Linked DNA regions of Homo sapiens: region 1 is linked to region 2. The links come from fine-mapping of genetic effects on gene expression. A gene starts in region 2. The other region holds a variant in brackets. All regions are shown on one strand. Distances are from middle to middle.

Region 1 (5,365 bases), 21 kb before region 2:
GGGTGGGGGCACCCTCAAAAGTCAAGGCCAGGCCGGGCGCGGTGGCTCACGCCTGTAATCCCGGCACTTTGGGAGGCCGAGGTGTGCAGATCACTTGAGGTCAAGAGTTCGAGACTAGCCTGGCCAACATGGCAAAACCCCGTCTCTACTAAAAATACAAAAAATCAGCCAGGCTTGGTGGCGGGTTCCTGTAATTCCAGCTACTCGGCCGACTGAGGCAGAAGAATAGCTTGAATCTGAGAGTCAGAGGTTGCAGTGAGCTGAGATCACACCACTGCACTACAGCCTGGGTGACAGAGCGAGACGCTGTCTCAAAAAAAAAAAAAAAAAAAAGGCTGGGTCAAAACAAATCTGGGGAGCTGAGTGTGGAAACATGGAGACTTCGGGGTCCCCATCTTCATCTGCATAGGAGCCAGTTTCTTTTTCTTTTTCTTTTTCTTTTTTTGAGACAGAGTCTCACTTTGTCACCCAGGCTGGAGTATAGTGGCGCGATCTCGGCTCACTGCAACCTATGCCTCCTGGGTGCAAGCAATTCTCCTGTCTCAGCCTCTCCAGTAGCTGGGACTACAGGCACCCGCCACCACGCCCCGCTAATTTTTGTATTTTTAGTACAGACGGGGTTTCATCATATTGGTCAGGCTGGTCTCGAACTCCTGAACTCAGGTGATCCGCTTGCCTCGGCCTCCCAAAATGCTGGGATTACAGGCGTGAGCCACTGCGCCTGGCCAGCCTTATGAATTTTGTTTTAAGTGGGACAAGAAGCCATCAGAGAGTTTTAAGCAGGGATGTGATCTCATTTCATTTTAATGGATCGTTTTGTTACTGTGTCACTACATTTCACAAGCCTTCCTTCCTCTCAGTCCATGTTGATTAAGACCAACTAACGGCTGGGCTCCGGAGACTGGGCAGGGCACAAGACTGACGGAGTGCAGTGGCTCACGTCTATAACCCCAGCACTTTGAGAGACTGAGAAGATTCCTTGAGCCCAGGAGTTTGAGACCAGCCTAGGTAACATACAAAAGAATTTTTTAAATTAGCCAGGCATGGTAGCATGTGCCTGTATTCCCAGCTACTCGGGAGGCTGAGGCAGGAGAATCGTTTGAACCCAGGAGGTGGAGCTTGCAGTGAGCCGAAATTGCATCACTGCACTCCAGCATGGGTGGCAGAGGGAGACTCCATCTCAAAAAAAATTAGCCAGGCATGGTGGCACGTGCCCGTAGTCCCAGCTACTTGGGAGGCCTTGGACCCATGGTCAAAGCTACAGTTAGCTATGATTGCACCACACTGCTCCAAGCTGGGTAACAGAGCAAAATGCTGTCTCAAAAAAAAAAAAAAATGACGGGGCATGGTGGCTCACACCTGTAATTTTAGCAGTTTAGGAGGCCGAGGCCAGTGGATCACATGAGCTCAGGAGTTCAAGACCAGCCTGGGCCACATGGCAAAATCCTGTCTCTATTAAAAATATAAAAATTAACCAGGCACGCTGGTGCATGCCTGTAGTCCCAGCTACTCGGGAGGCTGAGGTGGGAGAATGGCGTGAACCCGGGAGGCGGAGCTTGCAGTGAGTGGAGATCACGCCACTGCACTCCAGCCTAGGCAACAGTGCAAGACTCTGTCTCAAAAAAAAAAAGAAAAAAAAAATAGTCATAGCTGCAGATAAAGGTGACACCATCATACCTAAATATTTAGAACTCAACAAGAATGCAAGCACTCTGCAGCCAAGTCCATGAGATGCAGCCAAAGCTGTTCTCAAAGGGAAATTTGTAGCCTCCAAACGCATTTAATAGGAAATGAGGAAGAATGGAAACAATAGCATGGATGTCAGATTCAGATGAAGAGAAAAAAGGGCAGAAGGAGCCCTTGGAGATTTGAGTTCAGCTTCATAGATGGGGAAACTGAGGCCAAGAAAAGTTAAGTCACTTGCCAAAGGTCACAAAGCAAAGGTGTTCATGACAGAGCTGGAATTCAGAACCAGGTTTGGTTCCTCCCAAGCCACTGTCTAAGGACCGTAGAGACGTTTGGCATTACTCACTATTGGACTGTATTTTTAAAATGACTTCTTTTAAAAAAAGCAATATCAACATACCATGAAATCAAGACGAGTTTTTTTGTTCTTTTCAGTGAGCTTCTGGGTTGCTCAAGTTTATGGTAAATCCCTCCTCTTGCTCAGAGAGCTGTCCCTGTCTCCAGGAATAGTGCCTTGCAAACCTTGACCCTTGAACTCCGGGTTGGGGGAAGTGAGGATGCAACTAGAGAGACTCTTGGATGCCCCCCAAAAATCAGGAAGCAAGGAAAGAAAAACCTGTGTTCTAGAAGCAGGGTCAAAAAGGGGTTGAACAGGAAACAATTTCCAGGAAGCAATTTTGTAATCCTGACCCCTCCCCTTCCCCTGCCTGGCTTAGGCTCAGCCCCTATCAGGAACTGGACGGGGGTGGGGACTTCCCCAGGGTTGGTTCCCCTGCCCCCAGTCCAGGCAGGTATAAGGCCACCTCCGCAGGCCAGGACAACCCAGAAGCAAAAGAGCAGAGCTACCATGTCCTCTTGGAGCAGACAGCGACCAAAAAGGTAGGTCCCCACACTACCTGTCCTAGGCAGGTTTGAACGCCAGACCATGCGGAGATACAGGACATTCCAGCTAACCCATAGAAGTCACAGGGAGCAGATACAGGCCTGGTGGCTGGCACAGATCAACCTTATCTGTGACAGAAAGACTGGCGCGTGCACACACACACACACCCCTACAGAAGCCCAGGTGGGCATGGGCAGCAGGGAGCCGGGGGAGGCTTCTTGTTAGAGGCCTGGGGCCACAGTGACCAAGGCTGTCGAGATCATGTCTGATGGCTGCCGGGCCAGGGAAGCCCTGGAGGAGGAGGGGAAGCCCCAGGCTTCCAAGGGTTGTGGTGCTAAGTGTAAACCACCGCTTCCCAAGGCCAAATGCCCACCCTCAGACCTGGCCAAAGCAGGACACACTTTTCATGTTCAGAGGCTGCAGTGAGCTGTGATCATGCCAGTTCCCTCCAGCCTGGGCAACTGAGCAAGACTCTGTCTCAAAAACATGAACCTGAACGTCTGTCTTCCTCCAAGCACCCAATTGGTCAAGAGTGGACAAAAAGACCAGGATCC[C/T]AGAGCAGAGAAGTCTTCATGGAAAAGAGGGCATTGGAGCTGGGGCTTTGAAGGATGAATAGGAGTTCACATCAAAACACAGAGCCAGGGAGACAAGGACTGACCCAGAAAATAAGCCAGATCAGAAGAAACTAGCAAGTTGGACTGTGAATAATTAACAGCTCATGGGGGCTAGGCTGGTGATGGGGAAGTGTATTCATATTATGCGGGAGTTACACTCAGAAACTCAACTTTCCTAGAATTATAATTCTCCCTGGAACAGGGGCCACTTCTGGCAGCTGTCGGGGGTGAGGGTAGAAGCTGGAAGAGGAGGAGGAAGCAACTGCCCTAGTACAGGTGAGAGATGAGGTAGCATAGTCCAGGCTGGTAGCCGCAGAGATGGGAAGAAGTGGGCGGATTTGCTGGTGTATTTTCACCTAGCTGAGTGTATTTTCACTGTGGTTTAGTAAGCATCTTCTGTTACTGCCTGCAGCCCAGGGGGCATTCAACCCCATGTTTCTAGAACTCTGTTCCTGCTGCTGCTGTTGGCAGCCTCAGCCTGGGGGGTCACCCTGAGCCCCAAAGACTGCCAGGTGTTCCGCTCAGACCATGGCAGCTCCATCTCCTGTCAACCACCTGCCGAAATCCCCGGCTACCTGCCAGCCGACACCGTGCACCTGGCCGTGGAATTCTTCAACCTGACCCACCTGCCAGCCAACCTCCTCCAGGGCGCCTCTAAGCTCCAAGAATTGCACCTCTCCAGCAATGGGCTGGAAAGCCTCTCGCCCGAATTCCTGCGGCCAGTGCCGCAGCTGAGGGTGCTGGATCTAACCCGAAACGCCCTGACCGGGCTGCCCCCGGGCCTCTTCCAGGCCTCAGCCACCCTGGACACCCTGGTATTGAAAGAAAACCAGCTGGAGGTCCTGGAGGTCTCGTGGCTACACGGCCTGAAAGCTCTGGGGCATCTGGACCTGTCTGGGAACCGCCTCCGGAAACTGCCCCCCGGGCTGCTGGCCAACTTCACCCTCCTGCGCACCCTTGACCTTGGGGAGAACCAGTTGGAGACCTTGCCACCTGACCTCCTGAGGGGTCCGCTGCAATTAGAACGGCTACATCTAGAAGGCAACAAATTGCAAGTACTGGGAAAAGATCTCCTCTTGCCGCAGCCGGACCTGCGCTACCTCTTCCTGAACGGCAACAAGCTGGCCAGGGTGGCAGCCGGTGCCTTCCAGGGCCTGCGGCAGCTGGACATGCTGGACCTCTCCAATAACTCACTGGCCAGCGTGCCCGAGGGGCTCTGGGCATCCCTAGGGCAGCCAAACTGGGACATGCGGGATGGCTTCGACATCTCCGGCAACCCCTGGATCTGTGACCAGAACCTGAGCGACCTCTATCGTTGGCTTCAGGCCCAAAAAGACAAGATGTTTTCCCAGAATGACACGCGCTGTGCTGGGCCTGAAGCCGTGAAGGGCCAGACGCTCCTGGCAGTGGCCAAGTCCCAGTGAGACCAGGGGCTTGGGTTGAGGGTGGGGGGTCTGGTAGAACACTGCAACCCGCTTAACAAATAATCCTGCCTTTGGCCGGGTGCGGGGGCTCACGCCTGTAATCCCAGCACTTTGGGAGGCCCAGGTGGGCGGATCACGAGGTCAGGAGATCGAGACCATCTTGGCTAACATGGTGAAACCCTGTCTCTACTAAAAATATAAAAAATTAGCCAGGCGTGGTGGTGGGCACCTGTAGTCCCAGCAACTCGGGAGGCTGAGGCAGGAGAATGGCGTGAACTTGGGAGGCGGAGCTTGCGGTGAGCCAAGATCGTGCCACTGCACTCTAGCCTGGGCGACAGAGCAAGACTGTCTCAAAAAAATTAAAATTAAAATTAAAAACAAATAATCCTGCCTTTTACAGGTGAAACTCGGGGCTGTCCATAGCGGCTGGGACCCCGTTTCATCCATCCATGCTTCCTAGAACACACGATGGGCTTTCCTTACCCATGCCCAAGGTGTGCCCTCCGTCTGGAATGCCGTTCCCTGTTTCCCAGATCTCTTGAACTCTGGGTTCTCCCAGCCCCTTGTCCTTCCTTCCAGCTGAGCCCTGGCCACACTGGGGCTGCCTTTCTCTGACTCTGTCTTCCCCAAGTCAGGGGGCTCTCTGAGTGCAGGGTCTGATGCTGAGTCCCACTTAGCTTGGGGTCAGAACCAAGGGGTTTAATAAATAACCCTTGAAAACTGGATCGGATGAATTGGCTTTCATTGTGTTCCTAGCA
Region 2 (5,365 bases):
GGAAACCACAGCTTGGTATGGTGAGGTCAGGGTGGCCCCTGACTTCCCTGGGACATAGTCCAGAGGGCAGCTCTGGGATCTCCGACCACTTCCACCAGCCAAATCTACCTCCCTGCTCCTGTTCTGGAATCTCCCACAGGTCCCCACTGCCCACAGACCAAACTCTTCACCTTCCAGCTTCCTCCTCCAGCCTGACCTGGATACTTTGCTCTCTTACCATTGAAGTGGGCACATTCCCACCTCCGGGCCTTTGCTGAGGCTGTGCGGCCACCTTGGAATACTCTTCCCACCCCCCATCCGTCCCTCGGACACATCTCATACATCCTCAAGGCCCAGCCTCAATGCCTCCTCCTCCAGGAAGGCTTCCAGGACTCCATCCCAGCCGGATACTTCCCTCCTCCGGTCCTCCACAGGCCACCTTCTCAAGGTTTCTTGCCCTTTCCACCTTGACTTTATAGCCACAGGCAGCCTTGCTCTCTCTTCCCACATGAGGCTGGGGGCTCCTGGCAGGGCCAGGCCTGTTGAGGATGATCAGAACAGCACATAGGGGTAGGCATTTTGGCAGAGGGAACAGCTTAGGGAAAGGCACAGCAGTAGGGAAATCAGTTTCACTGCAGCAGAGGTGAGGAAAAGAGAATGGGTTGAGCTAAGCCCTGGGATTTTTCTTTTCTTTTCTTTTCTTTGGGGGGGTGGGGAAGGAGTCTCACTCTGTCACCCAGGCTGGAGTGCAGTGGCGCGATCTTGGCTCACTGCAACCTCCACCTCCCAGGTTCAAGTGATTCTCCTGCCTCAGCCTCCCGAGTAGCTGGGATTACAGGCGTGCGCCACCACACACAGCTGATTTTTGTATTTTTAGTAGAGATAGGGTTTTGCCATGTTGGCCAGGCTGGTCTCGAACCCTGACCTCAGGTGATCCACCTGCCTCGGCCTCCCAAGATGCTGGGATTACAGGCATGAGTCACCGCGCCTGGCCCATTAATTCATTTAATTTTTATTTAAAGATATATTTTGGGCAGCCGGGCACAGTGGCTCATGCCTGTAACCCCAGCGCTTTGGGAGGCCGAGGCAGGTGGATCACGAGGTCAGGAGATCGAGACCATCCTGCCTAGCACAGTGAAACCCTGTCTCTACTAAAAATACAAAAAATTAGCTGGGTGTGGTGGCGAGTGCCTGTAGTCCCAGCTACTCGGGAGGCTGAGGCAGGAGAATGGCATGAACCCGGGAGGCAGAGCTTGCAGTGAGCCGAGATCGCACCACTGTACTCCAGCCTGGGCGACAGAGCGCGACCCCGCCTCAACAGAAATATATATATATAAAATATATTTTTTTTATTTATTTTTTTTTTTTTTTCTTTTGTTCTTTTGAGGCGGGGTGGCGCTCTGTCGCCCAGGCTGGTCTCAAACTCCTGTGCTCAAGCCAATCCTCCTGCCTCGGTCTCCCTAAATGCTGGGGTTACAGGGTGAGCCATGGCACCTGGCCTGAGGTATATATTTTTTAAAGGGAGAGGAGATCCAGGAATGCCTCTTTGAGGAAGTGATATTTGAGGAAAGACCTGGAAGGAGGTGAGGGATGTGGGAAAGGGTGCTGGAGGCAAAAGCAACAACCCACACGAAAGCCCTGAGGAAGGGTGTGCGGGGCTAAGCAGGCACAGTCACGTGTGTCTTTGAGGGACTCTGTCCTGGCATGTTATGGGAACAGTGAAAAGGCCCGTGTGGCTGGAGCAGAGTGAAGAGAAGAAGGAGAGGAAGGTGGGGAGCAGACGAGGCAGGTTATGCAGGGCCTACCGGGCTGCAGGAAGGGGACTTGGGCTTTGACCCTGGGCTCCCACCCCGGAGAAGGTGGGAGCCATGGAGGGTGCTGGGCAGAGGAGGGGTAGATCCTGGCTGGGATGTTTATGATCACTTTTTAATTTTTTCTCTCCACACACTGGGCTGTGGCTGCCCTTTGGGAAGGGGAGGGGCACCCAGAGCTCTCCCAGCCACCCTTGGGAAGCACTGGCTGGTAGAAGAGGTTGGGGGACACCCCCCCTTCTGTTCCCCCACTGTTTGGCAAACACAGTGTCGGCTCCAAGGAGACAGACGGCCTGGGAATCATCAGATCCTGTGGCTGTACCCTCCCTCCTCCCAGCCCAGTGCCCAGAGCCACCCATGGGGTCTGCCCTCTCACCCCCAATAACACAGGGCTAGGAACCCTGTCTCAGGGGCAGGTAGGAGGGGGACACAGCCCAGGGTGGGCGTTACGGCCATTCCTCTGCCCACCCACCCACAGACAGCCCAGCACATAGGCTGGGCTCAGCACGAAGGTCCTGGGTCTGGGTTTGAATCCCGTCCTCACCACTTCCTGGAACAGGAGGGTCTGGGTTTGAATCCCATCCTCACCACTTCTGGAACAGGACGCCTCCTCCAGGGAGCCTCCCTGGGTTGGCCCAAGCCCCCCAGGCTGGGTTTCCACTCCTAGGGTGCCCCCAGCTTGGCTGGTGCTCCATCTTGGTCTGCGTTTTGGCCCAAGTCCCTTCCGGAGAGTGATGGGCTCCCCTCCACACTGAGGACACCCCCTGCTCCTTGCCGAGACCCCGAGACCCCGCTTCTGCCTGGGTAACGCGAAGGCAGCATTTGTTCAGTGCATGACCTCATCTCACAGAGGCTCACAACCACTCTCTGTGTTGCTCCATTGAGCCAAACGTGTATTAAGCGCCAAATGTATGCCAGGCACTGTTCTGTGGGCGGAAGAGGGTGCCCTGTGGGAACCTGCAGGGAAGGTGTTCCAGGCAGAGGGCACAGCCCGTGCAGAGGCCCTAAGGCAGGACCGTGCCAGGTGCGCTGGAGGCATAGCGAGGAGGCCTGTGTGGCTGGGATGAAGCAAGCGAAGGAGGAAGCTGGGGGAGATGAGAGCAGAGAAGAAGCTGGATGTTACGGGACGTGGTGCGGAGTACGAGAGAGAAACCTGAAGCAAAAAGATGGTAACTGGCCAAGGCATCCTGGTGCAGCAGAGATTTGAACTACACCCACCTCGTGGATGGAACTGGAGGCTCAGGGGCCCGGGAGGGGAGCCCATCTGGCCTGTGAGCCACTCAGCCTGATGCAAGCTGTGGGCAGGAAACAGGGGAAAGGTGCTGGGCCTGGGCCCATGCTGGGCTGGGCAGGTAGCCATGTGACCGTCCAGGCCACCTCCCCCGGGCCCATTGGCCGCCTGCCGCTGCTGGCTGGGCCTGCGCCTGCCCCGGACCCTATAAGGCCAGGGAGCTGAGGGTAGAGCCAGCTGCCAGCCGGGCCGGTCCGTCCTCCAGGGGACCCCGCGCAGTCCAGGTGAGCGGGGCCGCGTCTGCTTCGGTGACACCAGGGTGAGGCCAGGCCTGCAGGTGGGTGTCGGGCTGCTCAGGCTTTCAGTGGGGAGTGGGTGTGGGATGGGAGGCTAGGGAACCCCCATTCACGCACCTTCTCTGCCCCCTTCCAGCTTCTCACGTTCTCACTATGTCTGCTCCAGACGAAGGGAGACGGGATCCCCCCAAACCGAAGGGCAAGGTAAAGAGGGGAAATGGGGCAGATTCTTGCTGGGGCCTGGAGATGCCCCAGAGCCGGGGAAGGTGACCTCCACAGTCCTGGGGTCTCGAATCTGGAGAGGTGCTTCCCTGGTGGGCTGGTGGGGGCGGTCTGGGAGCCATGATGCCAATCCCTTCCTTTCTGACCCAAGCTGGAGGCGGGGGACCCACGCAGACCTCGACACCTTCCCCAGCAAGTGACCTTGGGCCGGCCTCAGCTCCGCCCCTCTCTGAGCCTCAGTTTCCCCATCTGTGCAGTGGGGATCCTGGAAGGAAAAGGTCTTTGGAGATCGGGTAGACGATCTTTTCCTCTGTGCATGGGAGGCAGGCTGAGTCTGCCCATTGCCCAGGTGTGGAAATTGAGGCTGAGTGGCTGAAACACTTTCCTGAGGTCACCCAGGAGCAAGGGGCCGGGGCGGCATTGGGCTGATCAATCGATGCTTCCTCTGACCCGTTCCTGCCGAGGCTTGGCCTGCTCATCCTGCACACCCCCCGCCCCCATGCAGACCCTGGGCAGCTTCTTTGGGTCCCTGCCTGGCTTCAGCTCTGCCCGGAACCTGGTGGCCAACGCACATAGCTCGGCGAGAGCCCGGCCGGCCGCTGACCCCACAGGAGCGCCTGCTGCCGAGGCTGCCCAACCACAGGCTCAGGGTGAGTGGCTGGCCCAGCTGGGGGCGTGGGGGGACTCTACACATGGACCTGGGAGAAGGAGCTCCCCGGGCAGGGACTTCCAGCCATTTGGGGAGTCCTCCATATTTGTCTGTGTGCTCTCATCAGACACTAGGACATCTTGTGGTGGATGGGGAAACTGAGGCATAAATATGGGGGGTGAGTGGCCGAAGGTGGCTTTCAACCCAGCCTGTCTCCCTGCAATGCCCCCCCACTCAGTCCCTCGGCCGTTCCCCCACCCTGCACTCCGTTTCTGATGCACCATGGCCCAGGCTGGGTGCTCTGCCCATCTGAGCTCATCAGAGTGAGATCCAGACTCCCAGGGAGGAGCAACAGCTCCCCTGGGGTCACACAGCCCAGGGGCTCCCCAGCCTCCTGTGGCTCAGCTTGGGCGATCAGGGACGGTGACAGGGAACCCAGGGTTGGGGCAGCCGCCTGAGCTGGGCCTCCCTCTGGGCCCAGAGCCCCAGGCAGCTGACTTCTGCTCCACATGCCTTGGCCTGGCAATAGGCAGCAGGCAGCTGCGGTGGGGGCGGGGCGGGCTGGGCAAGGGGCTGTTCCCCCATGCCAGGCTATATGAACCCCGGGACTCAGGGTGGGTGTCCACCCAGCAGAGGAAGTTCCACAGAGCCCTACTTCAGGGAACAGCGGCCCTGGGCTTGGGGGGAGCCCCCAGCGGGGTTGGGGGGTGACCAGGTCTGGCTGGTAGCCGTGGATGTCACCTCCTGCTGTCCCTGGCGGGGTAGCTGAAACATTCCTGACCTTTTAGGCTGTGCCTGGCTATTGTGCAATGGGCAGCCGGGTAGATGGTTCTAACTGCATCCCTCACTCTCCCTGACCGGCCCCTGTCCCCACAGTGGCTGCCCACCCAGAGCAGACGGCCCCATGGACGGAGAAGGAGCTGCAACCTTCGGAAAAGGTGAGAGGATGTGCAGGGCAGGGTCTGATGTGGCAGGAGCCCTGGGGGTGCCCCCTCCTGCGACATTTCAGTTCCTGCTATCTGGGGGGCTGCTCCCTCCTGGGACATTTCAGTTCCTGCTATCTGGGGGGCTGCTGTGGGCCTGAGGGAAGGCAGACAGCCTGGGGATCCCAGGCGGAGCTTCCCCTCTGAGCCTCTATTTCCACATCTGTGAAATGGGTGCAGTGCTACCCCACTCT

What was found.
Region 1: its variant is fine-mapped to the expression of PLIN4 in whole blood (TOPMed, PIP above 0.99).

What each region holds. Positions count from the first base shown.
Region 1 is chr19:4,537,182-4,542,546 of GRCh38, reverse strand. LRG1 (leucine rich alpha-2-glycoprotein 1) reads left to right here and starts at 2,511. Exons shown (of 2, transcript NM_052972.3): 1 at 2,511-2,565; 2 at 3,596-5,365. The coding sequence starts at 2,534. The coding sequence ends at 4,607. The variant C/T (reference allele first, on the strand shown) is at 3,124.
Region 2 is chr19:4,516,378-4,521,742 of GRCh38, reverse strand. It overlaps PLIN4 (perilipin 4), which reads left to right and starts at 3,257. Exons shown (of 8, transcript NM_001367868.2): 1 at 3,257-3,358; 2 at 3,454-3,521; 3 at 4,045-4,189; 4 at 5,065-5,126. The coding sequence starts at 3,471.